Homo sapiens: one gene and its partner. The protein of the gene in region 2 interacts with the protein of the main gene of each other region in a biochemical or structural test. Each region holds a gene or a part of one and is shown on either strand. Other genes may lie near its edges. The genes, in order: GALNT14 and MUC13.

Region 1 (16,308 bases), on a different chromosome or scaffold from region 2:
CACAGAGTATCTGTAGTATAATTATTTATAGCCATAAGGTCTCACTTCACAGTTATTCATAACTAACCTGAAAAGACTCAGACTGCTGGTAAGCAAGTGGGGGTCAGACAGTTCTAGAGTGAGCTGCTCCCATTTCACAGTCAAGGAGACTGAGCCAGGAAGAGAGGAATCTCAGTCACCCCTGGCACTGCCAGTGGCCACACTGGCTGCCATGTCTATCAGGAAACTCGGGGAGTAAAACACACTTGATCTTGACATGATGGGAGCTAGAGAAGGTGGGACTCTCTCTATCTCCTGCCGCTTGTGTGCAGCATGAGTCTCTGAGGACCCTGTGAGGAAAAAGGCTCACACCCAGCCCAGGATAAATACAGGCAAGTGGCAGGGGCCTGCAGCCAGTGGTAGAGGGCACGGGCATGTCCAGACTCACTTCCCCAAACAGATGGTGAGTCTACGATTCTAGGTCTCTGGGGTGGAATATTCAAAAGCCATGGCAGGGTTCACAGACTCCCCCAGGAGAGGAGCTGGGGATCTGGCCCTGCTTTCTAATTCAGATTATTTTCCAAAAAATGCATTGGGGACTTTGGGATGCTATAGAAGAGTGACAAAACTGCAAACATTAGAAATGAAACAAGGGCTCAAGCAATGAAGGTCTTCAAAAACTGGTTCCTGGGTGTCTGACAATGAATAAGACCACTTCAGAAAGCTGGGATGGGGAGGCATGGTGTAGGATGTAGGCACAGGAGGTAAAATCAGATGGCATGAAAACCAAGCTGTGCAGGAATCCTGGGCTTCAGGCGTCAGCCCACGGCAGCCTTATTCCGTCCCTGTTCAGTTTATAAATGACCTCTGATGAGTGGAAATTAGCACTTTTAAATGATACAACCAGATGGGCAGCCCTGAAAAAGGTTAGTCTCTGGACAGACTGGGGAGGCTTGTGACAGGGCCATTAATGGATCTTCCCTTCCTGCTTTGCCCCTCTGTCTTCTCTGATTTGAGTAGGTATCATTCTGTGCCTCTGGGGAAGTTTGAGAGAGGAATTCCTGGTATTTCTTTCCAAAAACTATCAGGTCACTTTGGGAAACAAAGGTTAGGGAGAGATAGAGCTCCCCAGCCTGACTAAAAGAGATTCCATCTGCAGGTCCCTGGGACAGGGCCTCCTGCAGGGACCTGGGGGAGAGAGTGGGCTAGGAGAGTGAAAGGAAGCTGGGACACAGCACATCCGCCACTGACTCAGCGCTGACAACCAGAGGCCTGGACTCCGGGCCTTGGGACAACCCAGAATAGGCCAAAAATGACCCACGGTGAATTTCTCACCATACCCATGGGATAGAGGCTCAGTGGTTTTGTTTTTGTTTTTGTTTTAGAAAAAGCTTCTTGACATCTAAGAAGTGACCACATATGATTTCTTGACTACCTGGGATCCCAACCTGCCATTTGCATATTTCTCAGTCACTCACAAGAGCCTCTGCAGGAGCCAGCTGTGTACCACCACCCAGACACCTGCTCCTGGGAACTGCCTTAGAATGGAAAGAAAGCACAGCACCTTGTACAGGCACCCACACAGCAACTGAAAGGATGAGCATGCATCTCATCATGGGCTACTTCTGGTCATGCCAGAGTCACACTGAAATTGCCTTTGCAAAAATTACAACAATGAGAAAATTGACAGTGAAAGAGAACTGACCTAACAGACTCCATCTTGCTTCTAACTTCCAAGCTGTCTTTGTTCAATCCTGGGTGTAGGCTGCACTAACTTTGGGAAGAACCCTGAAACAAAAATGAAAACAGCCGTTTGCCAAAAGAAACCCCCATCTTGCCTGGGGGCCAGACTGCCTTTGTAGGACTAACGAATTAGCCATAAGATTAAAAATGATGGTTTAGGAGTCATGCAGCTGGAGGCCACAAAATTCTAAACCTCCCCAGTTGCTCCTAGGGATAACATCACTACTGTGAAACCTAAGATTGGTGCTTGAGATATTTTTCAGATCCTACACTGGGTGGATCAGCTAGCGCCACCCAGATCGATAAACTGGCCCATCTGGTCTTGTGGCCCCCACCCAGGAACTGACTCAGAGGAAGAGGACAGCTTTGACTCCCCATGATCTCATCTCCAACCCTACCAATCAATACTTCCCACTCCCTGGCCCCCTACCCGCCAGATTATCCTTAAAAAAAAACCCAGTCTCTGAATTTTCGGGGAGACTGATTTGAGTAATAATAAAACTCCAGTCTTCCATTCAGCCACTCCGCGTGTATTAAACTCTTTATTGCAATTCCCCTGTCTTGATACATTGGCTCTGTCTAGGAAGCGGGCAACAAGAACCCGTTGGACAGTTACAAAATTCCCTGGACAGAGTCCAATATGCACATACCAAGTATGAGTAGATTAATAGGGTCTCTCTCTAAAATTTATGACTTTTTTTAATGAGAGAAATTATCTACTAAATGAGGAATAAAATAACAGTGTCATATACTTAAGGCATTGGTGGGATGCAAATGTTACAGAAAGACAAGCTATTTTCTAATGGTGTTTGTTGTATTTCTAGTACAGCACCAATACACTTACATGGGCCAGAGGCATTTTATTCAAAGCCTTTACATTTCCAATACCTTCCTTGAAAATTACCCTCAGGCCTACAATTCTTTTGCTTTTACTAAGCCCTAAACACCTGGACTATATTTAGTTTCTTAGAAATAAGAGACAAATTTGCTGATATTTTTAAAATTTTAGTCAGTTATTGTATGATTCTCCAAATGGCAAACAAATGATAGGGAGAGAAGAAATTAAAACATTTTTCAGCTACTTTTAAGTGGCATAGTATTTACCATTCAAATACAGTCTGAATTAAAACACTCAATTTGTTACAGGATTTTTCAGTTAGAAATTAGAGCTTTGCTGGATAATTGGGGGGGAGGCAGTAAAAGAATGAAATTAACGTTAAAAAGTCAAATTTAAAGAACTCTTTACTTGAGCTATTAATAGAAAGAATCAGCCCTTCTTGAAACTAAGAAAAAAGTCTAATAAATTTCCTTAAGCCAGGAGTGTAGCATGCCTTCTTCACTTCACTTGCACTGGGGCCCAGCGACCAGAGATTTCATTTCATCCCGCCCTCTTTGGAGATCCTGTCACTAGGTGAGTGGAGACATTTCCTAAGACCACGAGGAAAAGAGAACAAGGGCCTGATGGCCCAGAACCAGAACCTGCCTCTCCGAAGGCAATCTGCTCCACAGAATCTAAGGGTCGGGTAGTTCCCCAGACCAGGAGCCCTTAATACAGCTCTCTCCAATCTCTACACCTTTCCCAACTTCTCTGAATACATTCAAAGGAAGGGAGCCCACTCCTCTTGCTTTGGAAGAAAAGCTGACTCCCTCACCCATGCTGGGAAGATGCCTAGAGGCCTGAGCAGGAAGAAAACCTCTCCAAGGCTTCAGCATGTCCAAGGCAAAGAGCTGTCCCCATGATTACACGCTAGGAAAACCTACAGCACGGAACTCACTCAAAAACCAACTTTTTTCCCTATGATAGATGGAAGTCCCATCCGAATTCCTACTGTTGAAGAAACAATCTCTGCCCTGGCAAATGGCCTCCTAAACCAACGCCTCTGCAACCACCCAACACAGGGACTCTCCTCATCAGGGTGTGCTCCATCCAGTGAGGGGAGCCTCCTGTGCCCCACATGGTGCCTTCCAAGGGCAGGGGTGATGTCCCTCCGCAGTAGCTCCTGCCTTAGCACCTCCCTTACACAAACCCCCTGGGAGCTCTCCAAGGGTGAGGATCTAGGGATGAGCCAAGGGAGCTCTGGGAAGCGGGTGGGGAATTCCTGCTGTCAATTCAGGCAGTCTCTGGGTTTAACGGCATGGAAAAAGCAAGCAGTGGGCAGTTTCAGGAGGGATCCCATTCCATTCTTGTCCTGATGCTGCCACTTGGACAGCTTGGTTAGCTTGGGCCAAATTTTTCACCTCCTTAATGTCATCTGCATAAAAGTACTATCTTGTCTCCCTTGTGCAGTTGTGAGTATTAAATGAACTAATATATGTAAATGGAGTCTGTGAATTTGTAAAGCCCTATAGAAATGCTGGTGGCTGTTATTTAACATGCATGCATAGGCTTACATGGGTTAGGTCCATAAGCACACTCAAGAAGAAAATCATTTGACCATATTTACATGCAGCCAACCAAACCACGATCAACAGACTTGGTATTCTTCATCTAGCTCCCAAATGCCACCCATCAATAGGCTGCTTCAGAATCACATGCAACCCTGGTAAAAACAGTAATTCTAGAACCTTCTCCCAAACTCACAGAGGCATAATCTCTGTAGTAAGCCCAAAAATCTGCATGTTAATGGAGCTCACCAGGTGATTCTGACATGCAGCCAGGTTTCGGTACCACTGTGCTCCTTTGGACATGTCATATAAATTTGGACTTGTCATACAAAGTCACAGGGAATAAAACTGTTCTGGCGTTACCTAAGGAGTCTCTGTCTTTCTTCCTCTCTTCTCAGGTACATACACACTAAGATACAGAGCGACATACATACAAGGGAAAAACAGGAAGAAGAAAAATACTAACAAAAAAAAAAGAAGACACCTAATAGTAAGAGGTGTCAAGATTTTCTAAGTCTATAAAAATTCATGGTTCTAGAAGGATACAGAAAATGAGGAAAAGAAGGAACAAGATGTTAAGACAAAGAGCAACTGGTTCAAAACTAGAAAACCTCCTCTTTTGTGACTGCACAGTACAATGTCCTGACTTCTGCTACTAAACCACTCCCCACCTTAAAGTACCACTCATTTGTTGGTAATTCTGCCTCATCCTGCAACTTATGTGGCCCCCCACCCCCATGCCAAAGGACAGGGACACAGCGTGCTCATCATAGCAGCCCCCAAACCCAGCACAGAGCCTGGCATACAGCTGCCTGTGATAGATGTGTGCTGAGCACACGCCAGGATAAGAAGAGGCAGGAGAGGAGGAGGGACAAAGAGTGCACAAAGAAAGAAACAGGTCTCTTGTCCCAGATCCCTGGTGTAAACTAAGAATAAGCAAGCTTAAGGTAATGAGGGTCGAAGCAAAACAGAGAAAGTTCATGTCCCTGCAGGTATCATTAACTACATCACAGGGAGCAGAACCACCTAGGGAAAAAGAAGAAAAGCTCTCCAGATCTATGGGCAGGGGCTGAGTGAGAAAAGTGATCTGGTGCTATTAAAGGTGGTTTGAAGTCATCAATCTGGCCTCGCCACCTCACTGCCTGACCCTCTCCAAGAGTCCTCACACCCACAAGATTCTACCCCACCCAGCCCCTACACACCTCCCTAAACTTTATCCCTCCAACCTCCACATACTTTGTGCTCAAATTATGCCAAACTCACACAACGTGCTGTGTCATTCCTCTGAGCCTGTTTCATGCAGTTAACCTCTACCTGGAATGCCCTTTCTACCTACTGACAAACCTGTTTATCCTTCTCAGCTCAGCTCTGTTATGTCCTCCTCCTCCAGGGAGACCTCAGGCTCCCATGACACCCAGTGCACTGAACCCTCTTAGCCCTATGCACACCTCACATCCTGGTCCAATGATGAGTGAACTCCTCTCCCCCCAGAGAGTAAATTCTATCTCTCTCTACCCATAGCACCTAACACACTGCCTGAGCACACAATAGGTGCTAAATAAATGCTTGTTGAAATCGACAAAGCATTGGCAAGATTCCAGAACATAAGTGCTAGAAGACTTGGTTAAAAAGGGGAAACCGAGAGGCAACTTGATATACTGGAAACCCTGAGCGTGGAGGCTGGAGTTCAAACCAGTAGAACGACTTAAGGTACGTGACTTAAAGACCCTGAACCTGTTTTCCTGATCTATGAAACAAGCATATTACCACCCAACTCCTACAACTACTTATGAGGAAGGCACCTACTATGCACCTGGCACACAGTAGGCCCTCTGTACTGTACTTAACTGGTGAGACGCCACCTCCCGCCCACATCTTCCTGTTTTTCAGTCTCCCATTTCCGACCATAAGCTCCTCCAAGGCTTTTGCCCAGACCCCTAGACGACTGTTCTGGACCCAGTTTATAAAGACTGCCTGGCTGGCCAGGAAATCCCCCAGAGGCCTCCTTCCGTGTCCCCGGGCCAAATCTGTGAAGAGAAAACGGAAGGCTACCATGTCACGAAAAACTATGATCAAATAAATTATTATGCCTTTTCTCCTATTGATCTGCCTTTTGTCAACTGATTTTCAGTGAACCTTCGGAGAGCCATGGGGAAGTTTTCCCTTTCCCCCTACAGGGCTCTGAATCTGAAGGTAAGAGTGAGCCTATAGGGGGAACCTTCTGGCTCCCTCACAGGAACTGACTGAGCAGGAGTTGGAAAAGCCACTTGGATTCCCATTTCCTCAACTCCCCGCCAATACCAAGGCGTCTGTTTTTACAGGCTCTTTCGTGGTGTTCTGGGCACATTCAACTTCCAATGCAGCTGAGAGGGTCGGGAACAGTTAGAGAACAGGGGTGGCAGCCGCCCGGGAGGCTGCAAGGCGCTCGCCCGCAACGCACAGGCGCGCGCGGCGCACCCGGCCTCCGGCCTCCCCAGGTCGGGCCTGGCAGCTGCGGGAAGGAGGTCAGCGCAGCCGCCACACTTCGCCCGGGCGCTGGCCCGACCCGACCGCCGGCGACTCTCTGGCAGCGCCCGGAGACCGCCAGCCCCTGGGCCGCCCGTCCGCAGAGCCCCCTCCGCCCCGGGACCCTCGCGCGCAGCTCAAGTTGGGAGCCCCGCTCCGCAGGCGAGCGCGCGCCCACCACCCACACCCACTGCCACTCATGCACACCGCGGGTCCGGAGATGCCCCCGAGCGTTTTAAAATCCAGAAACATCACATGGTAGCCACATCCGGCGGCTGTTACCTGCTCGCAGCACCCAGACCCTCGCCCTGGTTTCCCGGGAGCCCGCAAACCCGGCACGCGGGCTGCGCGCCCTCCCGCAAGCCACCGCTCAGCGCCAGCGCGCCGGCAAGCCGCCTACCTTAGGGGTCTGCACTTCAGGTCCCGTCGGCACCTCCAACTTCCTCTTGGTTACCCAGAAGAACAGCAGCACCGTGATCCAGAGCACCCCGAAGACTGGCAGAACCAGCCGACGAGTCAGGCGCCGCATGGTCCCCTTTGCCGCTTCCTCTCCGCGGCGCTACGTCCCGGGGGCACCCCCCGGCGGTCAGGGTTGGCGGGGCAGGAGTCCTGGCGAGCGCCTCGCTCTGGGGAGCTCTAGACCCAGGATCCGGTTGGAGGGGCGGCAGGATCCTGCAAGGCGCCCTTCCCGCTTCGAAGAGAAGCGAGCCTGGGTGGGGGGTGCAGGGCGACCCGAAACGTGGCAGGGAAGGACCGAGGGCAGCCAAGCTGGACGCCCGCTCCAGCGGGAGAAGCGCGGTGGCTGCCGAGATGTTCCCCACGCCGCCACCGCGGCTGCCGCCGCCGCCGCCGCCGCCTTGCCCGCTGCCGCCGATAGGGAAACTGACTCGAGCAGCGAGAGGGAGGAATCCGAGGCTGTGCCAAGCACCCCGGGAGGAGCACGAGGGCGGAGGGAGTGAGCGGGGAGGGCGGGCCCGACAGACAGGCCGACTCGGAGCGAGCCCAGGTGGGAGTGAGCGGGGCTCTGAGAGGGGGCGCTACCGCCGCCCGCCGACCGAAACGCTCGGTGCTGTTGCGGGGCCGCCAGCGCCAAGCCCTGGGCGCAGCTCCCAGACCATCGTGGGTTGGGGCAAGGCGGGGCGGGGCGGGAGCGGTGCACTCGGGATGCCCGCCACCCCCAGCTGCCAGCTGGGACCCAAGGGCCGGCCCTCGCCAGGCGGCGCTGTGCCTGGGAGGACTTTCCCGCTCATCGCGGGGGCTGCACGTGGCGCTGAAGCCGGGGTCCCACCCCCAATGTGCTCGTCCTACCACAGCCAAGGCTGGGATTCCAGGGCGCCGGCAGGGCTGCTGCCCCAAACCCGCGGTTCACTTGCCTGGCTACTGAGGGCCAAGGCCGCGGTCAGCCAACTCCCCAGGGTGTTTCTATGCCTGCCTGCAGGTGCCTGGTAACTTTTTCTGCTTAACGGAAGGAAAGCTGAGCTGGTCTAATTTTAACTTTAAAGATATCCTTTAAAAAATTAAGGCGCAATTATCTCCCATAAAGGTTTTCTCTCCCTGTAAGCATCAGGGCTTTGTGCTTGCAAGAAAAGAGGTCCAAAGTTGGAACAACCACTTGGGATTCTTGGAAAGTGACCCTGGGCAGGAGGATACTGGGTGCAGAGGGTGATCTTTCAAAAGCCCCTTTTCCCAAGGGCCTTTGGGAATTGTATCCCCCTCCCACTTGCAGATTAAAACCGCTTGGATCTAGAAGCAAAGCAAATTCTAACTCCAATTCCCATGTAGGCTCAAGTAGGCTGGAATCACGGCCAGATCACTGACCAGAGAGTACTGACCTAGCTGTCACACTCACTGTGTGAGTCTTGGGTAAGTCATTTACCTTCTCCCAGTCTTCGATTCCTCATCTGTAAAATGGAGGGAAAATACCTCCTCTGACAAGCAAATGAGTAGTGGTGAAAGCTGAATGCAAGGTGCTGGTGTTATCTGACCACTCAAAGTGGGGAAACCTTGCTCTGTCTGGGGAGCAGAGGCAGCGGGAACCATGCCATTTTTGTTGGAGGGTTGCTTGCTTCATCGAGTTTCTTGGGGAGGTGAGAACGATGCACCCACTGTGGCAGCCACCATTCTCCCTGCCCCTCTCTCCCCATAAAGCTCAGTGTAGGGCAAGCTCCCATACCTCCGCACAGGTGAGACAGCTGTAAATCAGGGCTCTGGAATTCCTTCTTCAATAAGATGTCTCCCCAAAGACATGTACTGAGAAATGGAGGCGTCTACTCAAAGCCTCCTGTTTTTGGTACCTTATCTTTCAGCCACAGGGAAGTCCTGCCTCAACCTCAGAGAGTTCTTGACTGGACTGTAGATAAGATGTTTGGGGTTGGGAACCGCAGTTGAAATTAAACAGCCCAGAAAAGGTGAGCACTGTTGCCAGCCCTTTCAAGATCTACCTGCGCTCTTAGACCATCACACAGAACCCCAGGGTTGATCTAGCATTTGCCTTTATCAGAACTCTGAACACTGAAAGGTGGGAGTAGGCTCCCCAGCCAATGCTTTGTCCCAGCAAAGGCCCAGGTAGATGATCATCATGGGAGGGGTAGGGGGAGCAGCAAGAGAACTCACCTCTGCAGCATCCCAAGCACCTTGGACCTCTTTCAGGAGCCTCACCCGGGACCTGCAGTTTCGGGCCTGCAAAGCGTTCTGCTGCAGGCTCTGCAGGGGACCCCCAGGCAAGCTGCTGAGCTGCTGTTGGCTCCAGGCAGAAGCTGCAGCACAGGAGTCCATTGCTCAGCGCTTTGTAATGCCGCTTCTGAGTAACAGATGGCAGACAGTTACACAAGAACACCGCCAAGCTTTTGAGATGGTGCAGCACCACCACGCTGCTCACCACACTGCTGAGATGCTGAGGTGCCTCATTCTGACTGTTTGGCATATGGGGAAACTGAGGCCCTGGGGTGAAGGCAGCTCCGTGCAGGGACTGCAATGTCTCAGAGAGTGGGAATTTCCTTCCAGGAATGATTTTCTTCTCAAATCATTATTTTGTCCTCTACTCAAGTGAGGAAGATTTCCTGGGCCTATGGAAGCTGTCAAGGGAATCCAGTTTTGCTAGGTGTCATTAGCTGATCCATCCAGAGATCATATCAGATATCAGTTTGGGTTGTCAAACCAGTAAATATCATTAGGACTGAAGTAGATTTCAAGTGGGACTTCAAACATCTGGAAGTGAAGTGAGTGTCCATGCGGGGCCTAGTTCTGTAGGTCTCTCCAGGAACCCAGTCTATCCAGGGGTCCCCCATGCTCAGGAATATATTTGAAACGCTTTAATAACCAGCTTTAAGCCTGGGCAACATAGCGAGAGCTTGTCTCTAAACAACAACAACAACAACAAAATAGCCAGGCGAAGTGGCAGGTGTCTCTAGTCCCAGCCAATTGGGAGGCTAAGACAGGAGGATTACTTGAGCCCAGGATTTTGAGGCTGCAGCGAGCTATGATCTCACCACTGCACTCCAGCCTGGGTGATGGAGCGAGACCCTGTCTCAAAAAATGAATAAATAAAATAACAAGCTTAAGTAATGCAGAGTATGGTTGATCCCAGCGGGGGATTAGCTATCATTGGCGATTAATCCAAGTTACTTTTTTCTTATCACAGCCAATATGGGGAGGAAAAGCTCCTAGCAAAAGACTTAACATGGCAGGAAATGAAAAAAAATAAATACACTCTGAACTAGGACTCTCCTGGTTCTCCTGGATCTCCTAAAACAGATCTACCTCCTCAGTCTTGATATTGTTGAGCCAAGCTCCTCATTCCTCTGGGTCTGTGGTTTCCCATCGGCAATGTCATGTTCTCTCAAAGACCCTCCCAGCTGACGCATTTAGGGTTCTGACCTTTCTTGTCCTGGATCAGGACCTTCTTTACCACTCCTGTTGTTGGCGAGTTCTGTGTAAGCTGTTCTCTCCTCACAGCCGAAGACATTAGAGAGCAAATTGGGTACTGGAGCAGATGTGAGTCATTCATGTTAGTATAAAAACTATGGAATGAAACCCATTATGGCCCGGAAAGCAGTGTAAAGCAGCATATGGAGCAAATGCAAGCTGGAAGCAGGAGGAAGCTGTGAAGTCCGATGCATATGCTCTGTGGCGGCTTTTGCTGTGGATTCTCACACTTCGCTTCTCGTTTCCTGTAGCCGTCTCCCCATCATTCTCGCTCAGCCCACTGCAGAGGCTGCAGCCTTTGTTCCTTTTGGATCAGATTCTCTGAGTCCCTCCTCTCTGCCCACTGCATGACTTCAGGGAGGCTGTGTGTGCGCGAGTGGCTGTGTGTGTGCTTCTTGCCATCTGCACGCTTATTAGACCTGTCACAATCAGCGAGACACCCTCTGTGCCAACCTAACGAAATTTCACCCACAGAGGCCCAGACAGGTTTCTGTTGAGGTCTTTACCTCTTCTGGGCCATAGGGAAAGGTAAGCAGTAGCAGGGCAGATTGCAGCACAGTGAGAAGATGAGTCGCACACATGCTGGCCCAGCAGCAAAAAGAGCGGCAGTGAAAATTCAAAGATCTGTCTGTCTTTATTCCACAGTCATACAGATACAAGTCTTTGGGCTGACTCCTGCAGTTGACTCTGTTCAAGTTCTCCACTGTAAATAATACATCAGCTCCCCTTTCCTCTGTGTTCCTCTCCATTTTCCTTGCCACTATAGATCCTGTCAAAACCGCATGTCCTGGGTTTCCTGCAAGGCTTTCTTATAGAGTGAGTGATGGAATAGTTTAAACCACGTGGTGAATGAGGATGAGCTATTACCAACCCCTTACCTCATCTTTCTGCCACATCAGTGAATCTTTGTCAAAAGAATAAAGCCAGCTGGATTTTCCTCTCATCTTTGACGGGTAGATGGGTGGCTTTATCTAAGGGATCTGACAGTCACCTTTCTGGATCTTTCTCTTTCCATTAAACAACTCCTTTCACCAGCCCACTACCCTCAACTCCTCTCCCTCCTTTTATTCTTATATTCGATTCCTTGAAAGGGATCTATATCTTTGCATTTCAAAAGCCTGCTTCTTTTATTGTTTGAAATGCCCCAAACTTTCTTTGTTTCTCACCCAAATGCCAAGTGTAAAACTTAATACTGCTACAATGATATGTCTTTGCTGGTTGTGTAAAGTGGTTTGATCTTCAGTGATGGTGCCCTGTGGTGATCTGAGAAATTTCCCCCACCCCCCCCCCAGCCCCTATAGAATATGCAAAGTTCTAGCATGAAGGTGTGACCCAGTTTGCCTAAAGAAAAGTAAAAGAGACCTGCACAGTGGCTCACGCCTGTAATCCCAGCACTTTGGGAGGCCGAGGCGGGCAGATCACTTGAGGTCAGGAGTTTGAGACCAGCCTGACCAACATGGCGAAACCCCGTCTCTTTTAAAAAATACCAAAATTAGCCGGGCATGGTGGCAGGCACCTGTAATCCAGCTACTCGGGAGGCTGTGGCAGGAGGATGGCTTGAATCCGGGAAGCGGAGGTTGCAGTGAGCTGAAATCACGCCATTGCACTCCAGCCTGTGCAACAAGAGCAAAACTCCATCATCAAAAAAAAAAAAAAATAGAAAAGAAAGAAAAAGAAAATTATTTCCCTTGAATTATCTAGAGGAGACTCTGACAGAGGGCAGCACAGGCAGAAGAAATAGAAGGATCTAAGGACAGATGTCACTCCCCAGGTCCCCAATTTCAGACAACCAAATCTGAGAGCCACTTGCATTATCTCTGACAAAGACAGTCTTTCCTGTTAGGCTTAAGCTTAGAGGCATCAGTGAAAGGTAGAAGTGGGCAGGAGAGCTCAAATCCAAGAAGGAATAGAACTGTGATGGGGCCTCTCCAGTCTGGCTAGGACTTCAGCAGCAAGAGGAGCCAAGCATACCCCAGGAGTGGACCTGGGACAATCCAGTATAATCTCTAGTGACCGACAGCAGATTTTGTCATCAAGTCACTACCAGATATTGCACATTGAGCAGGGTGGCTTTATGCCCCAGTTTGCTTGGGAAATTCCTGGTTTATTCTGATTTTTCTGGCATAATTATTATACTGCCTCATTTTACTTTCAAGAAATTTCTATTTTAGACAATAAATTAGAGGCCACTCTAATCAACAGGAGGACTTCTGGTGATGGTTCTAGAAGGAAGATTGCTTTTCTTAGATGAGTAAAAATGTGGGTTTGCTATTTAAGTTGTTTTGTATGTGTGCTGAACTTGGGATACTCTGTTCATGTGGGGCATTATTCTAAGTAAACAATAGTCAAGATGCTTATCCAAAGAAGAGACAATTTGGACAAATGAAGCCAGCTTTAAGTAACTAAGGAAGTAATTAGGTTGCGCATATCAGTCAATGACAGTCTTATCCTATCCACCCAACTGAAGATGTTTTACCCACTTTGCAGCTCATGGAAGCAGCCAGATAGCAGCACACTGTCTCTTTGAAGGGCAAGGGATTCCTGACACCAGACTCCAATCATTCTTCCAACAACCTCCTCCTCTCACCCACATACCTACATGGGCCATGAAAGTAACATGAATGAGTGAAATGAGATAGGGTTGGGGGAAAAATAGCATAAACACAATGACAACAATGAAACTGCTATTCAACCTTCATATTGAGGACACAGTAGGGAGTAGCGGGGCCCACACTGGACTAGCAAGGAATCAGCTCCAACTCATCATTGCCAGTGCCAGTAAAGTGTTGCCAGAGTTTTCCAGCCTCAACAAAAGCATAAGTCCAGATGACGATGTGAAACCTCCTGGATTTTAACTGTTATCGATTAATTCAATCACCCCCACCACCAGCCCACCAAAACATTGGATGGGCTAAATAAACAGGTCTGCAGTCTGAATCCAGCCTGCTGCTTGCCAGCTTGCAACCTCTACTCCAGCCACCAGTGTTTCCATAAGTACTGAAGTTTTCCTGGTTTCCATCTTCTAATGTGGGAACAGATCTACCAAGCTAGGACAAAGGGTAAAGAGTACACCAGATTATATTAGGAGGGGCCTTAGACTCTAATGTAGTTCAATACTCCTCATTTTGTGATTGAGAAAAGTGGAGCCCAGAGAAATTGCACGAACTGCCTACAGCAAGATGAGTTCATTGGTAAACTGTGGGCTATAACATATCTGCATTACCCAACATTGCTCCCAAGTGACATCCCTCACTAGGTTTCACAGGACAAGTGAATCAGGGAGCTGAGGCATTTCTACGGTGGGATGGGGAGGCTGCTAAGCCCAGAAGTTTCTAGGTAATGAGCAAAACAATGAACAAAGACACTGTGACCAAGACTCTGGGCAATTTGCTGTGAGGAATACAAATAAATAAGGCCTGTTCCAGCTCTTCTAGAAAATGTAAGCTGGTGATTTGAATAAAGCCTTGAGTGTTAAAAGATCTAGTCCTTCCTCTTGGGTTTCTGTTGAGTAATGTTGAGTCCTAGATAGAGGCGCTTCAGTCCACCTGAGAAATAGCTACATTGCAACAGGAAAGTCGTTTTTGCAGCTCTGCACTGCACCTGTCTTCAGTTTCCCTCTCTAAGTGCTGTGCAAATGTTAATTAAACATAGATTATTTGAGAAGTGCTTTCAGCATTTGAACTCAACTGGGCTGCGTCAGATGATGATATTAATATCATTCCCCTGTTGGCAGAATGCTGTTTTTTAAAAGAAAAACTCTTTTCCTTTTACAGTTTTTGCCACACAGACAATTTATTTTGCCCATCCTCTGGCTATTTCACCTTTTGTGTCATCATTTTCATGAGACAAGTGAAAATAATATTTCTCTTATGCTCCAAAGAGCCAAATCCCTTTTTCTAGCTTGATCCGAAGAAGGCCAGTTGGAGCAGTAATGGGAAAACGCCTGATGTACAGTCCAAGTGCAAATCCTCAGGGAGAAATAATGCATCTCTTTGGGGAAAAAAATAGCTTATACTTATGAGGTAGGAGATTTTCAATTTATAAAGGTTTCCTATTTCTTTCAATTGCCAGGATAACTGCATTCCAGAAAGGTTGGGCTTCTGCCATGTAAGGCAGAACTGCTCTCTTACATCTGGGATGTAGATTTAAAAATGATGAGTGACAAGCATCCCTCTCCATGCCCTGGACCACTGCCCTGGGGATTGTAAAGCAGATCAGATCAAAGGGTTAAAATCCATTACCCAGAGAGATGGAGAAGTTCCTCTCAGTGATTTCTTCCCCCATCACTGCTCTCAGGCCTGAATTCCAAATTGATTTCCTTAATAACTATTAAAGATCTTTTTAATTAAACCAGGCATCCTCTTCCTTAGCAAACTTTTCTTGATGACATCTCTGGTTAATTAAAGGTTTAAGCTGCAAAGACATATTACATAAGAACAAGGGAAGCTGCTTTATGGTGTGCCGGTGAAGGATCCTGCTGATTCCTACTGCAGAAACCAAGGCCGTGCCAGAGAGCTGCTCTTGTTTTCCTTTACAGCATTTCCTTTCTTTTAGAGGCCCCAGAAAGTGTTAATAACAAAAATGGTTTGGTGAGTGGGGGTTCATTTTTCTGTTTCCTGAGGTTCAATTTCTCCTTTCATGCTTGCCTGGTAAGTGTTCATCAAGTGTTTTTCATTAAAAACATCACTCATTTTTATCACGATTCACTGATGCTGACAAAACATTTTTACCTTTTCATCCAAAATTCCTGAGGTAGTTGATACATTTGGTAATGAAAGAACAACGAATAAAAACCTCTTTTCACCCATCAATAATATGCAGCCACCTCTGTAACAGAATATACCAAATTCTAACAAGAAGGAAAAATCATATTTTTATATATATATGATTTTGTGCATACATATATGACTTTGTGCATATATGTATATATATATATGTTGTTGTCATTGTTGTAAATTGCCCTAATTCCTTTTCTTTTTCCTAAAACCTTTTTCTTTTTCCTGGTTCATTTTTTTTCTACCAGGACCCGTATTTTAAAATGGTAGAACAGAGTATGGTGTAGAGAATGTAACTATGGAATGGAACTTTTCTCCATGAAAAGCTAAATATCTCTTAAATTGGGAACCAAACCCATGACCTTGACTTTGTTGTCATCATAGTTTAAAACACTGGGTCTCAAACCTAGATATACATTAGAATTATCTCTTGTTATTGCTAAGAGTCACATGCCACTGCCTCACCCTAAGCCTGCTGAAATTTTATGGATGATGTCTCTAGGCACCCAAGTTTGGGAACCACTGATCTAATCAATACCTTCAAGTCCAATCAGTTCCACCTGTAGGCCTCCCTGGAAATGGGAAAGATGGCGTACCGTTTCAATATTTCAGTGCAACAGACAAATCAGACTGTCAAAACAAAGCAAAGGAAAATAGAACCTTACCAGTATTGCAGAGGAAAAGCGGCTCCAATTCTGATGAGACATCAAGGAGGAAATTTAAAAGATTTTCTCTTATTTTCTTCTTAAACTGGAACCAGGAGCATAGATAATCCCATGTCATAATTAGTCACATGGAGAGTCCACTCACAGACTGTCACTGGTCACGTGTTCTATAGCTCTACATCAGTGGTTCTCAAAACAGAGAGAATCAGTATCACTGGAAGAATTTATTTTACAGGCCACTTTATTATAAAAATTTTCAAACATATGGAAAAATAGAACAATAGTATATTCGACACCCACACATGTAATATACCTAGATTCAAAAACAGTTA
Region 2 (16,517 bases):
ACAGTATTGCCCCAGCCTCACCTCTTACCTCTCACCCTCCTTCTAGTGATTTATAGAGACCCTAAAGGATCTTTCTGACGAAGGGAGGTGACTTGAATTCTGCAAACAGTATTAAGACAAATGCAAACACTGACCAAGGCTAAATTGCAAAGGAGAAACCAGGACCTCTGGAGAGGAGTTGCTGTAAAGAAAGGAGCCTCATGAGGGAGTCAGGCCCAGCATCAGGGCAGGAGCTCAGAGGGAAGGGTGGTTTCTGGTCCTGACCTGCATGGCAGCTGCTAACCAGGGTAGTGCTGAGATTGGGATATTTGCCCCTAAAGAAACTCAATCAAGGGCTATTTATTGAGTGCCTACTGTATGCCTACCCCTGCTGGGTATTGTTCTTACTGGGTGAACATCACAATGTTTCAAGGTGAGGTTTTCCTGTTAAACATGCTCCCACCATATCCTGAATGTGTCCTTTATAAAAGTACTCTGCACAGTTCTTGCTGCAGAAATGATGGCTCTAGTTCATTGCTGTATCTCCAGAGCCTAGAACAGTGTCTGTCCCTGATAGTGCTCATGGTACTCTCAAGTATTTGGTGAATGAAGGAAAAACCCTAAATTCAACATATTGTTGCAAGTTTCCTTTGTTATCAACTATAAGCTGAGTTTTAATGGCTACACAAGACCCTTCTCATGAACTCACCAAATTTGTCTTGACCAAGCCACAACTTTTAGACATTTATATAGTTTTACTGGGTGTGGTGGCTCACACTTGTAATCCCAGCACTTTGGGAGGCTGAGGCAAGAGGATCACTTGAGCCCAGGAGTTTGAGACCTGCCTGGGCAACATGGTGAGACCTTATCTCTGAAAAAAAAAAAAACTAAATTTTTTTCTTTGAAAAACAATAATGAGACCGGGTGCGGTGGCTCACGCCTGTAATCCCAACACTTTGAGAGGCCAAGGCGGGCGGATCACCTGAGGTTGGGAGTTCGAGACCAGCCTGACCAACATGGAGAAACCCCGTCTCTACTAAAAATACAAAATCAGCTGGGTGTGGTGGCACATGCCTGTAATCCCAGCTACTCGGGAGGCTGAGGCAGGAGAATTTCTTGAACCCGGGAGGCGGAGGTTGCGGTGAGCTGAGATCACGCCACTGCACTCCAGCCTGGGCAACAAGAGCGAAACTCCATCTCAAAACAAAACAAAAAAACACAAAAAAATACAAAAATAATGATATATTTATACAAATGTATTTGAGCATATGTCTGGCTATTTCCTTGGGATAAATTCCTAGAATGGAATTGCTTGATCAAGAGATAGATCCATTTTAAAGGTCTGTGATACATATTGCTGAATTTCCCTCCTCCAAAGGCTGTTTAAATACCTTCCCTACTGCTGTGTTTGAGGCCTGTTTCCCACACATCATTGCCAACAGCAACCATTGCCATTCTCTTCATCTTTGCCAGTTAAATAACCTCAACATCATGGTATCTAATTGGTTCCCAGGGCTAAAGCAATCTCTAGGAAATTGCTTATGAGTATGTGTCAAAGGCAAATTTGCCATCAAGTAAAAGGTTTCTGAGAAAGTCAAATCAAAGATTTCCTCTGGCAAAGGTGACTTGGAGCAACAACAATAAAATAGAACGTGTAGTTAAAGATTATGGAGATAGTTGTGAGTTGAGTTCAAGCTTTGCATGTCTGTCTAAATGTCATTATGTTCTCCCGGAACTGTCAGCTACACGGAGAGACTTTCCAGGAATGGGTTCCTATTGCATTAAAGTTGATAAGTTTAGCTCTAGCTCTGGCATTGTTCAATTTTCTCTTTTATTAGCATGTTGTGACATTTTTCATGTGGTAGAAAATGTGTATTTCTTTTTTAGTTAACTCACCTGTTTGCTTCTCTGCTCTCACACTTTCGAAGGCCCTCTTCCTTGCCATTCACCCTACGGTGTGCCCTAGCACAGTGTTTTCCAAACCTGTCGGTTTTGTACCTCCCTCATGATTTTTGACAAATCATGTATTATCACTACACTTTCTTACATATTTTTGTTGAAATTGACCTTTTTTAAAAAAATAATTAACTGAATTTTCTTTTTCTTTTTCTTTTTTTTTTTTTGAGACATTGTCTGGCTCTGTCACCTAGGCTGGAGTGCAGTGGCACGATATAGCTCACTGCAGCCTCAGCCTTGAACTCCTGGGTTCAAGCGACCCTACTGCTTCAGACTCCTGAGTAACTGGAACTACAGGCATGTGCCACCATGCTTGGCTAATTTTTATAACCTTTTTTGTAGAGATGGGGGTCTCACCATCTTGCCCAGGCTGGTCTCAAACTCCTGGCCTCAAGTGATCCTCCTGCACTGGTCTTCCAAAGCTCTGGGATTATAGTCATGAGCCAATGTGCCAGGCCAAACTTAATTTTAAAATAAACTTTACAGCTTGGTGTGGTGGTTCACACCTGTAATCTCAGCGCTTTGGGAGGCCAAGATGGAGGATCACTTGAGCCTAGGAGTTTGAGACGAGCTTGGGCAAGATGCTGAGACCCTGTCTCTATGAAAAAAAAAAAAATTTTTTTCTGATTTAGCCAAGCATGGTGGTACATGCCTGTAGTTCCAGCTACTCAGGAGGCTGAGGCGGGAGGCTCACTTGAGCCCAGCAGTTTGAGGCTGCAGTGAGCTGTGACGGTGCCACTGTTCTCCAGCTTGGGTGATAGAGCAAGGCCCTGTCTCCAGAAAATAGATAAATAAATAAAAGCAAATTAACTTTACATCACCACCCCAAATTTAGAAGAAAAAAAAACTAGTTTCCTTTGCCATGGATAGAAAATAGCCATAAGAAACATAAACAAAAATAAAGTGTTATTAGATTACCAGGAGTTTGGTTGCCAAAGGCTCTGTGTCTGGGGCCTGAGCTCTCTTCCTCACAAAGAGAAATATGTAATTATTAGAGAAGAGTTAAAGATATCTTAGCAATACATGAGATTTTCTCATTGTGTAATCAGAATGACTGAAATTTGAAAAGGCATAACTTTCCCCTCCAAGTGAATCACTGTTATCTAACGCTGTGTCCATGGACACTTAAAATCATCTTGTGTGCCACGAAGGCAGTGGTCCTCAGAGCTGAGCACCAGCAGAGTCACACTAAAAATACAAAAATTATCCAGGTGTGGTGGCACATGCCTGTAATCCCAGCTACTCAGGAGGCTGAGGCAGGAGAATCACTTGAACCTGGGAGGCCGAGGTTGCAGTGAGCTGAGATCATGCCATTGCACTCCATCCTGGGCAACAAGAGTGAAACTCCATCTCAAAACAAAACAAACAAACAAACAAACAAACACAGATTGCTGATTCAGTAGGCCTAGGTGGGGCCTGAGAATATGCATTTCTAAAATGTTTCCAGGTCATGCTGGTGCTGCTGGTCTGGGGAACACATTTTTGAGGACTGATGCCCTAGTTGTATCATCTCTCATTTTAGGAATAACTGGACTGGGTAAGGCTGAGAGGTACAAACCCCAAAGAGGGGCAAACCTACTCCCACCCATTGTTTTCAGTTTTCCTCAGAGCAACAAGTCCAGGCCTGGTGCTAGCATCTCTGAGGACAATGTTTTAATCTCTGGAACCACTCGCTTCCTCTCTGAAGAGATCTGAATTACAATTTGTGGCCACCGCAAGAGCTTTCTGATCTCAGTCAAACCTCCCATAGTCTTGATGGGTGAGTAGAGGAGGAAGTGGGTGAGAAATCAAACTCCTTCCTGGGGAAAATCTCTTTATAGAACTTCTCCAAGAGTTTCATTCCAAAAGATAATAAAATGAAATAAAATAACAAAATAAGAAGCCCACAAAATCTCTCATGATGTGAAATTTATTTTTAGAGCTGACTAAACTCAGTGAGGTGAGTAGATAAGCAATTGTGAAATTTTATAAGCCAAGACTCAAAAAGCCAATGCCTGCTCCTTTTGAAGGTCAAGGTGTTTTGGAACACATCTCCAGTGGTTAAACACATGGCTCGGCGCAGCGGCTCTCGTCTGTAATCCCAACACTTTGGGAGGCCAAGGCGGGCAGACTCCTTGAGCTAAGGAGCTCAAGACAAGCCTGGGCAACATAGTAAGACCCCATCTCTATTAAAAATACAAAATTTAGGCAGGCGTGATGGTTGCAACGCCTGTAGTCCCAGCTACTTGGAAGTCTGAGGTGGGAGGATTAGGCGGAGGTTGCAGTGAGCAGAGATTGCACCACTGCACTGCAGCCTGGGCGACAGAGTGAGACCCTGTCTCTCAAAGAAAAAGAAAATCTATACATTCGTACTTGACCCTTTCTCTGAGCCCATTACATCGTGGGTGTAAGAAGTGGAAGTCGCCATGAGAGTGCTCGACCGCCGTCCTGCCACCCAACAAAGCAAGTCATTTTCATGTGTTCGTGTTTCCTGCCAGCGCTTATCTTTATGGAGGCAAATTATGGAGGCATGGTTTTTACATAATTAGAGATATAATGAGAATCCTGCCTCTTCAACTTCTATTGTAGTAGAATAAGCACTTCCCCATAAGCACTTCCCCTCACGGCTGCGGTCTTCTGCATCGTACCGTGTGTGGATAGAGTCCTACCTCTCATCAAGGGTGGTCACCACATTTAAACCTCTGTTGTTGGGTAAGGTTGTTTTCAATTATTTATACTGTATATATGTAATACTGCAGCAAACATATCTGTACATATAATTTTCCCTTCATTTGAAATTATTCCTTGACCAGGCACTGTGGCTCACGCCTGTAATCCCAGCACTTCGGGAAGCCGAGGCAGGAAGATTGCTTGAGGCCAGAGTTCAAGACCCCCGTCTCTACAAAACTTAAAAAAAAGATTTTTTTGAAGAAATTATTTAAGATAAAGTTCCAGAAGTAAATTTCTCAGTCACAGGGTAAAAACTTTTTTGTTTGTTTGTTTGTTTGTTTTTTAAGACAGGGTCTGGCTCTGTCACCCAGGCTACAGTGCAATGGCACAATCACAGCTCACTGCAGCCTCAACCTCCTCCCACCGGCTCATGAGGCTCAAGCAATCCTCCCACCACAGCCTCCTGAGTAGCTGGGACCACAGGCATGCAACACCATGCTCGACTAATTTTTTAATTTTTTGTAGAGATGGTGTCTCACTGTATTGCCCAGGCTGGTCTCAAACTCATGGACTTAAGTGATCCTCCCACACTGGCCTCTCAAAATCATGCCCAGCCAAGAACATTTTTAAATTGCTCTTAATACCTGTTGCCAAATTGTAGCATATTACAACGTAGCAATTGTAAAGCATATTGAATTATTTGCACCCCCACCAGAGTTGGATATATCATTGTACACATTTTTAAAAGATGTAAAATATTACACCAGTGTGGTGGCTCACACCTGTAATCCCAGCACTTTGGGAGGCCGAGGCAGGTGGGTCACTAGAGGTCAGGAGTTCGAGACCAACCTGGCCAATTTGGTGAAACCCATCTCTACTAAAAATACAAAAATTAGCCAGGTGGGGTGGTGTGCACCTGTAATCCCAGCTACTCAGTAGGCTGAGGCAGGAGAATTGCTTGAACCTGGTAGGTGGAGGTTGCAGTGAGCAGAGATCATGCCACTGCACACTAGCCTGGGTGGCACAGTGAGACTCCATCTCAAAAAAAAAAAAATTAAAATAAAAAAAAAGAGGTAAAATATAATCTCACTTTTGTTTTAGTTGTAACATCTTTAAGATGAGTAAAGGCCGGGCACAGTGGCTCACACCTATGATCCCAGCGCTTTGGGAGGCCGAGGCGGGTGGATCACGAGGTCAGGACATTGAGACCATCCTGGCTAACACGGTGAAACCCCATCTCTACTAAAAAATAAAAATAAAAAAATTAGCCAGGTGTGGTGGCGGGCGCCTGTAATCCCAGCTACTCGAGAGGCTGAGGCAGGAGAATGGCATGAACCCAGGAGGCGGAGCTTGCAGTGAGCCGAGATTGCGCCACTGCACTCCAGCCTGGGTGACAAAGCGAGACTCCCTCTCAAAACAAACAAACAAACAAAAAAAGATGAGTAAAAAGCTAAATATTCTTCCCCCACATATTTACTTACTAATAATATTTTCTCTTTTGAATAATTTGATCATGACAACCAACTTTTGGAAGATAAATTGTCTGAATGCACTGTGGGTCTGAAGACCCCAAACTGTGTCTTATTTCTTTGCATTCCCTGTTCCCTGCACCTAGAACAAATCGGACGGCCTTCATTCATTCCTTCCTTTCTTCCATAAATCTTTACTGAGCACCTGCCATGTGCCAGCTGTTCTGGATGCTGGAGACAGAGGAGTGGACAGGGAAGAGAAACTCTCATGGAAGTTAGGCAACAGGTAGCTAAACCAGCAAAGAGACAAAGTAATTACATATTGTGATGAGGGCTATGGAGGAAACGAACTGAGGTGGGATGGTCAGGCGAGTAGACCAGCTCCTTTAGATAAGGCCCCCAAGGAAGATCTGGCCTGTCGTTCTCCTGCTTAAATGTTCCCATGGCTTCTGCCATTGTGCTTAGAATAAAATCCACATTCCTTTCCACAGCCTCTAAGATCCTGTAGGATCAGGCCCCAGCCTGCCTCTCTGACAACATCTCCCCCCAGTCTCCTCCTAAATCATGGTGCTCTTCAAACACACCAGACTTGTTCTGGCCTCAGGCCTTTGCACTTACTACTTTTCTAGCTGGAATGCCCTTTTTCTGATGTTTATATGGCAGGCTTCCCTTCAATAGCAGCTCTCAGTTCCGATATCAGCTCCTGCAAGAAGGTTTTGCTGACCATCCTATTTAAAGTAGCACCTCATACCCCACAAGTCACTATCCCATTGTTGTGTTTTATTTTCTTCAGAGCATTGACCACTCTCTAAAATCATTGTATTTAATTACTTTTTTTGCCGACCTCCACTACCCATGATCTCACAGAAGCTTCAGGAGAGCAGAGACCTTCATCATCTTGTTCACTGCTTCATCTTCGATACCTGATGGATGTGCAGAGATGCCTCGAGTACCTGGGAGTGACTGAACAGCCCCCTCCTGAACATTACTCATGTAAAGCAACCATTCACTGAAAAGTTAATTTCAGAGGGTATAAAAAGCAAGAGTGGAAATGGTTCTGTCAATGTGTCATCAATTAGACATTTGAGTTGGGAATATTGCATTCCACAAGTCATTTCTCTGGGAATGGTCTTCTGAATTAGAGAGGAAAATGCTGATCAGCTTCATGTAGTATCTAAATGTGATATCCGTAAATGGTAGTAGTGACTCTGGGAAGGCTATACTCACACCTCTATTGAGGGGCTGGAATTAGTGAGAAGGAGATAGGAGCTTAACATGTATTTACATTTGGTTCTATAGACAGAAAATAATCTTTGGGTCTAACTATTTAATCTTGATAGAATTTTATGTTTTAATGATCCTCTAGAGCCTTATCATGGTACTGCAGTGTTGCAGAATCAAAGTAGCCAAAGAGGAGCTCTTTTGTTTGAGACAGGGTCTCGCTCTCTCGCCCATGCCGTGGTGCAGCAGTGCAATCTCGGATCACTGCAACCTCCGCCTCCAGGGTTCAAGGGATCCTCCTGCCTCAGCCTCCCAAGTATCTGGTACTACAGGCATGCATTACCATGTTAAGATAATTATTTTAAAATTGTTTTGTAGAGACAAGGTCTCACTATATTGCTTAGGCTGGTCTCAAACTCCTGGGCTCAAGCAACCCTCCCACTTTGGCCTCCCAAAGTGCTGGGATTACAGATGTGAGCCACCTCACCTGGCTAGAGAGGCTCTTGATGGATCAAATTCTAATTCTAAATGGCTCTGATATAGCTCTCTTGAGTTTATGCCTAAATAACTGGATATTGCTTTAGATTAATGGGCATGTCCCATTCCTCTGCATAGTCAATAGAATTATTGAAAAGCTCACCCTGAACAATAGTTCTTTTGCAACCAGGTAATTATGGGTAAACAGCTTTTTTTTTTTAGCTGACTTGGTGACAACGTTACCAACATATAACATTGTTTCTGTGGGAAAATGGAGTCTGTGTTCTTGACTTATAGATAAATACTTAGAATTTAGCCATTTCATACTAATAAATATCAACCCTTTTTCCTATCCAGGTTTTGAGTTCTGTGAGAAGTAAAACACAGAGTACAACAGATGGAGACAAAATATTACTTTTATAGAAGCTTATTTTTGAGAATGTGGCTTAGGGCTCCCTCCTTCTGGATCCTTACCTTCTTGGGCACAACAATCCTGAATCCAGGTTATCTCCCCAAATGGAAACTGCAGGATCTGAGGTGAGTATTCCCAGTTTATTCTGAAATAAGTCACTACTCTTCCTTTAGGGCAAAATGAATAAAGACATGCCAAGAGGCCAGGAGTGTTTCAGGAATTAAACTCCCTCCATTAGTGAGGAAACATCAGCCCTGAGGAAGAAGAAGTTTCCCTCATGAAAGCTCTGTGTATTGTCTCTGTCATCCTGCAGTACTGAAGTCCTGTGTGGATGCTTTAGGAGCGGGCATACCGGTGATTGCTGATTTATACTTTGAGGACTGCCTGACTTTCTGGCTGCCCATATTTTTCCAGATGATAAGGCCAGGGAAGAGTCAGGGAGCCAGATGCTTGGCAGTACTCCATGCCTTCCTGGTTATACTTTTCATTCTATGCTCAGCAGATAAGTAATATAGAAAACCATGGAAATATTGACACTGTTGTAATATGGTGGCATCAGTAGACATTAGTGATAGAGCACTGTGGGCGCTACTCACTTGATATCTTGAATCTAAGACATGATGGGGTGTGATAGGCTTCTCCCAGTTTAGGAGACAGGATTTGAGACCCTGCATTTGAGATCCTGCAGCTACTTATGTGACCCCAGGCCACTTTTTCAATTTTTCTAGATTCCTGGTTAGGCTTTTATAAAGTGAATATAGTAAGTTTAAAATGCCATATAAAAATGACAGAAAAGGAGAAAAGATTTGCAATACATATGTAAAGAACTTTTACCATTAAAAACCAAGAAGAAAACCAATTCAACGATACAATGTGCAAATTATTTGAACAGGTACTTTACAAAAGAAGAGACACGAGTGACTAATATGCACATAAAATGATGTTCAACATCATTTGTCATCAGGAGATGCAAATTAAAACAAAAGTGAGATGCCACTACATACCCTTTAGGGTAGCTAATATAAAGACGGACAATACCAAGTGTTGGCAAGGATAGGGAACAACTGGAATTCTCATATATTGCTGATGTAAAATGGCATAACAACTTAGGAAAACCATTTGACCATTTATTAAAAAGTTATATAGCTACCATGTGATGCAGCCATTCCATTCTAAATATTTACCCTAAAGAAATGAAAGTGTATGTTCATACAAAAACTTGTACATGAATACTTATAACTTTTTTTTTTTTCTCGAGATGAAGTCCCGCTCTGTTGCCCAGGCTGGAGTGCAGTGACGTGATCTTGGCTCACTGCAAATAATACTTCCGGGGTTCAAGGGATTCTCCTGCCTCAACCTCCTGAGTAGCTGGGGTTACAGGTGCCTGCCACCATGCCTGGCTAATTTTTGTATTTTTAGTACAGATGAGGTTTCGCCACATTGGCCAGGCTGATCTCCAGCTCCTGATCTCAGGTGATCCACCTGCCTCAGCTTCCCAAAGTGCTGGGATTACAGGTATGAACCACCACACCTGGCCTTATTTATAATCTTTTTGTTTGTAATAGTCAAAACTAGAAACAACTCAAATGTCCATCGACAGATGAATTACCAAACACGCCATGGTACATTGATACAGTGGAATAGTGTTCAGATATAAGAAGAAACAAACTATGAATTCACACAGCAAGGATGAGTCTCAAAATGGTTATAAGTGAAAGAAACTGGCTCAAAAAACAAAACAAAACAAAAAACTACATCTGTATGATTCCATTTACATAAAATGCTAGAAAATGCAGACTAATTTATAGAGACAGAAAGCAGATCAATGGTTACCTGGGGTTGGGGTGGAGTATAGGGGATGTAGCACTAAAAAGGGACAAGAGGAAAGTCCCAAAGGGTGTGTTGGGAATGCTCGGTATCTTGGTTGCAACGGTAGCTACACATGTATATACATCAATCAAAATTCGTTGAACTGTACACTGTAAATAGATACAGTTTATTGACATAAATTATAGCTCAATAAAGCTAGTTTAAAAAGAAAAGAAAAACAAGCCTTTGTTTAAATCCTGATGCCAGGAGTTATTCAAGCTGAGAATAATAGCATAACATAATGGGCCTTAGAAGTGTCTTTGCTTTGGAAAAAGTGTTTAAATGGACCTCTCAGCCATGTAAGAACAAACCCCTGTCTTATTCTTGAATGGAGACTCTAGGACAATAAGCAGCTTATCTGCTGGGCGATCATACAAAAATGTTTTGTTTTCATCAAGGTCAGGGTTAAAATTTAAACCCAAAGGCCAGGTATGGTGGCACACGCTTGTAATCACAGCACTTTGGGAGGCTGTGGTTGGGGATTGCTTGAGTCTAAGAGTTTGAGACCAGCCTGGACAACATGACAAAACCCCATCTCTTCTGAAAATACAAAAATCAGCCAAGCATTGTGGTGTATGCCTGTAATCCCAGCTACTTGGGTGACTGAGGCAGGAGGATCACTTGAGCCCTGGAGGCAGAGGTTGCAGTGAGCTGAGATCGTGCCACTGCACTTCAGCCTGGGCGACAGAGTGAGACTCTGTCTCAAAAAAAAAAAAAAAAAAAAAAAAAAACTTAAACTCAAAACTCTAGCCACAACTCACAAGGTATCATTAGTTTATATTCCTCTGGCTGGGGCTAGACACAGTAGAGTTGGGGCCCTGGACTTTAAGGAGGGAAAATTAGATTAAGAAGACCCAAATCCAAGCAGTAAAGCTGGTTCCTGACACATGGTGAGAGGTGAGGGGCTGAGGAACTAGAGAGAGGGTGAGAAAGGGAACTGAGAAGTGGGGCCTGCCCAATGAGTGGCCAGGAGCAGAGAGATCAAATCAGCTGTTCTAAGTTTTCTCTTTTCTGTACTTTATTGCCAACTCCCCAACACACCAGTCACCCACAAGACTTCAGTAAAGTTAGGTTAAATGCCATGATGTGATGTCCATTGTGCTTGGGAACTTTATTGGGGGCTGTATCCAGGTAGAGTCACAGAAGCTTGGAGATGTGATTACAAAGTTGCTAGACATGACCATCAGAGAGGCCCGGAATGGTAGTCCCCAGCATACAGTGACAAAAGTTAAGCAACTAATAATTTTGGGAAACATGTAAGTCCTCTTCAGGGATTCTCAGAACTACAGCTGGAGGAAAGTGGTTTCCTGCACTCATATGTGGGTGAGTAGAGCACAGTTTGTTATTGAATGTTTAATGGAATGGTGACCTCCTAAAAGATGGCGGCTTGGAGACATTTGAGATATCAAGAGATTAACCAAACTCATGTGCCACCAACCTCACAAGGATATTTGGAATGTCCTGACTTATTTTGGGCTTTGAGTCAGAAAAATGATTCGTAAGGCCAGCTCCACCTCTTCTATCTCAAAAGCTCGGAAGAGATCTATGGTATTTGGCCAAATGCTAGCTATAATTGCCTTTCTGTGGTTTGACGTCAATTAATGACTGGACTTTGTACCCGAAAGACAGTTAAAACGAAAGGTAGCCAGGAAGGGAAATCATTTCCTCCTCAGATTACCAAGCAAGAACAGCTAAAATGAAAGCCATCATTCATCTTACTCTTCTTGCTCTCCTTTCTGTAAACACAGGTAAGGAATATTTTTACATTTTAATTCTTCCAATCATGTATGTTGTCTTTGAGGTAGAATCAGCAGGCCTATAGCTACCAATTCTCCCAGCCCAGCACATGGTCTATTTTATAAATGAAGTTTCCTCTCCAGCTCAGCTCAAAGACACAGACATTTTATCCTGTGATGGGGAAGATAGAGCAATAGCAAAAGTGGTCTGTGGGCTGGGCGCGGTGGCTCACGCCTGTAATCTCAGCAATATGGGAGGCCGAGGCAGATGGATCACTTGAGGTCAGGAGTTTGAAACCACCCTGGCCAACATGGTGAAACTCCATCTCTACTAAAAATACAAAAAAATTAGCCAGGTGTGGCGGTGGGCACCTGTAGTCTCAGCTACTCAGGAGGCTGAGGCAGAAAGAATCGCTTGAACTCGGGAAGTGGAGGTTGCAGTGAGCTGAGATGACACGGAGTGACAGAGCGAGACTCCATCTTGTAGGGGTGGGGGGAAGAAGTGGTCTATGGAGTGAGATCTGGGGGCTCAGCAAACCAGAGGTTTCTCTTTGAGAGTTCCTGAGGCCAGATAAGAAGGACTAAGTAGGTTGCAAGGACCCAGTTCTCTACTATAGCGTTCTGGATCCCCTCTCATGATAATCAGAGAGCTGACCACAGCAAAAAGCCTCCTTTCACAAATGTACTTGAATTTGAGAATGCTAAACCATAGGGAGTAATTGTCACGTTGATTAGACTTCAGACATGTACTCTCTGTTCTGAGTTAGGAAGGGTTCTATGGGCCACATGTGGGTGAGGTCAGCAGTATGTTGAGAGGTGAGGGTTGTGGAGGCCAATTGGCTTCCTAAAATTTTGCAGAAAAATCACTGGCATGAAGTAGATGGACTAATAGGAAAAAAGGCATACAACTGTATTTAATGTGTGTACCCAGGAACCTTCAGCATGAACACCCAACTTCCTGATGAGGTATAGAAGCTTATACACCATCTTGAGGTTACAGAAAGAAAGGGGGCTTGGATCTTGGTAAAACAAGTTATGGAAGAAGGGAGAAGAGGAATTCTGTTGAGGGGCAATAAATGATTATTAGGGAGAATAATTGGATCTGGGAACAAAAATGAACTTGTAGATAATTCTCCTTGGAATTTAAAGATCCTTGGAGACAGTCCTTATCTTGATGAAGGGTCAGCTCAGGGGTGGTTTCCTTCTCGGTCTTCTTTCCTGTAGTGGATAATGACATAACAGGGAGGGGAACAGGAGCAATAGTTCTTCTTTGGTGGATCAGTCCTTACAGCGCTTGTTGACCTCTAAGAGTTTTTAATTTAAAATACTCATTATATCATGGAGCTATATTTGGGGGTGAAATATTTTTATTTCCTTCAGGTTCAATGAGTTGAAATCTAGAAGCTGCTTGCAGAAAGGAAGAAAGTATTTGATAAGGCAGATGTATGAAGAGAAATTAAGCCCTTTCAGAGAACTGGAATGAATGGCATCAGGATTAGAGTTTTTTGAGAGCTGGTTTCAAGCTCTTAATGCTGGAAGGTTGGAGAAGGCTAGCTGCACAGGAGGGGAGGGCTCACCAGATCTCTCCTGCCAACCTTGGGGGCAGATGCTAGGTCCAAGCCTTCAGGACAAAGGAAGAATTGGTGAGGCTTGTATGACTTTCAGGAGCCACTGTTAAAAAAGGCTTGACTTTTTAAAAATAGAATAGAAGGGCGGTAGAAAGGGGAAAGTTGGCTGGGAGGGGACAAGGAGATGAATAGAGAGTTAAGGGAATCAGGAATCATTGAGGCTCAAGGGACCTTAGGGGAATGGAGATGTTTCTTGACCCAGAGAACCCAGGGGGAAGGGCAAAAGTAGGGCAAGCAGGGATTCAGATGGCATGCCACCACTTATTAGCTGTGGGGTGTCTCTGACCCTCAGTGTCTTCCTGTGTAGCAATAGAGGGGAAATCCCTATACTGAAGAGTGACTGAGAGGATTAAATGAGACAAAGAGCCTGATGTGCCGGGATACTGCCTGGCACATAGGGGCTTAATAAATGATTTCCCTTTTTGTCATGTCTGCACTTGGATCTGATTTTCTTTTCTTTCTTTCTTTTTTTTTTTTTGAGACCGAGTTTCACTCTTGTCGCCCAGGCTGGAGTGCAATGGCACGATCTCTGCTTACTGCAACCTCCGCCTCCCAGGTTCAAGCGATTCTCCTGCCTCAGCCTCCAGACTAGCTGGGATTACAGGCACCTGCCACCACACCTGGCTAATTTTTGTATTTTTAGTAGAGATGGGGTTTCACCATGTTGGCTAGGCTGGTCTCAGACTCTTGACCTCAGGAGATCCACCTGCCTTGGCCTCCCAAAGTGCTGGGATTACAGGCGTGAGCCACCACGCCCAGCCTGGATCTGATTTTCAAACTTTGGTTTTGATTTCCTCTTCTTTGTTTAAAAAAGTTATACAAGTAATGCAGACCCACTGTAACAAATCCAAACAATACAGATGTATATGAAATAAAAATTGAGCATCCAATCTGACTTCCCACCCATCTACCTCCAGATATATTAATACTGACAGTTTTGTGGCTACTAAGGTTTGCTTTTGAAAAAAATATTTATTTTATTATTTATTTATTTATTTTGAGACAGAGTTTTGTTCTTGTTGCCCAGGCTGGAGTGCAATGGCGCCATCTTGGCTCACTGCAACCTCCGCCTGCCAGGTTCAAGCAATTCTCCTGCCTCAGCTTCCCAAGTAGCTGGGATTACAGGTGCTCACTACCACACCTGGCTAATTTTTTTGTATTTTTAGTAGAGACGGGGTTTCACTACATTGGCCAGGCTGTTCTCGAACTCCTGACCTCATGATCCGCCCGCCTTGGCCTCCCAAAGTTCTGGGATTACAGGCGTGAGCCACCGCGCCTGGCCTTATATTACTTTTTGAGATGGAGTTTTGCTCTTGTCGCCCAGGCTGGAGTGCAATGGCACTATCTCAGCTCACTGCAACCTCTGCCTCCCAGGTTCAAGTGATTCTCCTGCCTCAGTTTCCCGAGTGGCTGGGATTATAGGTGCCTGCCACCACGCCCAGCTAATTTTTGCATTTTTGGTAGAGATGGCGTTTCATCATGTTGGCCAGGCTGATCCCAAACTCCTGACCTCAGGTGATCTGCCCGCCTCGGCCTCCCAAACTGCTGGGATTACAGGCATGAGCCACCGCGCCTGGCCTGAAAATTTTTAAAAAGTTGCTTTTTTTTTTTTTTGAGACAGAGTCTCGCTCTGTTGCCAGGCTGGAGTGCAGTTGTCACGATCTTGGCTCGCTGCAACCTCTGCCTCCTGGGTTCAACCAATTCTCCTGTCTCAGCCTCCCAAGTAGTTGGGACTACAGGCGTGTGCCACCATGCCCAGATAATTTTTGTATTTTTAGTAGAGACAGGGTTTCATCATGTTGGCCAGGATGGTCACAATCTCTTGATCTCATGATCCACCCACCTCAGCCTCCCGAAGTGCCGGGATTACAGACATGAGCCACCGCTCCTGGCCTGAAAATTTTTAAAAAGTTGCTTTTTAATGTAACGTTAAGGATTTTGGAGGTGTGTGTAAGGAATCACTACTTCAAACATGAGTTCCATCTCAGATTCTGAGCAACCAAGGGCAGGAAGTGTGTCTTGTACACCTTTACGTTCCTCCTCACCCCTATGCCTTGTATAGCACCTTGACTGCAAGAACCCCCGCACAAGCATTTACTGAAACAAATGAAAAATGTGCCAGTGACATTTGAAGAGCCTTTAACAGGCAAAACTTCCCAGGTTGTTTTTGCTTTCTCTGAGAGACTAGGACTGCATTATTCCACAGAATCTGATGAGTGCCTTTGGGAACCAACATCTCATCATAATGAAGAATTCAGATCTGGGAGAAAGGCGTTTGATTGTGACTTTCAGCTAGCTTTGAATAAAGCAGTTATAGGTGTGCCCTGGACAGGGGTGGTGATTATGGAGTGTTCCCCAGAAAGAAACCAGGTCAGGGCATATATTTTCCCATTGAAACCTATGATTTGTACCTCTGTGGACGTTGTGCTATCCTTGTGTTATTTAGAAGCTTTAGGACCTAAGGAAATAAAAAGACTAAAGTTATTTCTACTGCACAGATGTCTTCATATATTTCTGTTATCTATAGATTGAACAAAATAGGTTATTTTACAGTTCCTCTTGGGTATTTTTACTAGATAATTTAAGCCTGGGATATCAGCTCTAAGCTGTCTTCCCTGAAATCTATACAACCCTCAGATAAAACACATATATACACATAGACACACACAAGTGTATTTTAGTTTAAAAAAAAATCGTAGCTATTCACAGCAATGAATTGCTGTCAGCTTGGAATGTGTCTCATTTATTAAAACTAATTGAGCATTCTGAAATGTATTCTCCCTAGTGAACAGAAATTTAAAACCAAAATAAACAAGCCACCAAGTCCAAAACTCCTTGTCATAATTCCAAAGACCTGCAAAAACCTCTCAAGAAGTCCCAATTTGTTTTATGCACATCTACAGAAACATGTTGGTTCTTTGGCATCGGCCGAGAATGAATATTCCCAAAGCATGAAATTCAGGGTCTGGTGGGGTTGGGGTTGTTTGCACCCACAGTCTGCCAAGTCCTTTTCTTCTGTCCAGAGTTTTCCACAGCGAGAGCCAGCCCCTGGCCACTCTCACTGCTACTCCGATGATAGAGGGCACCGTGGAGGTCACTTCTATTTCCACCGCTTTCATTC

Evidence for each region.
Region 1: of the proteins of MUC13 (region 2) and GALNT14, one has a biochemical effect on the other in vitro, tested with the Homo sapiens proteins (one study listed by BioGRID).

What each region holds. Positions count from the first base shown.
Region 1 is NC_000002.12:31,130,946-31,147,253, forward strand, and holds the start of GALNT14 (polypeptide N-acetylgalactosaminyltransferase 14), read right to left. Parts: upstream 7,496-16,308; 5' UTR 7,142-7,495; coding exon 7,013-7,141; intron 1,702-7,012; exon of another isoform or gene 1,685-1,701; intron 1-1,684. UniProt on the Homo sapiens protein: Catalyzes the initial reaction in O-linked oligosaccharide biosynthesis, the transfer of an N-acetyl-D-galactosamine residue to a serine or threonine residue on the protein receptor.
Region 2 is NC_000003.12:124,929,924-124,946,440, reverse strand, and holds the start of MUC13 (mucin-13 precursor), read left to right. Parts: upstream 1-11,689; 5' UTR 11,690-11,728; coding exon 11,729-11,780; intron 11,781-16,517. UniProt on the Homo sapiens protein: Epithelial and hemopoietic transmembrane mucin that may play a role in cell signaling.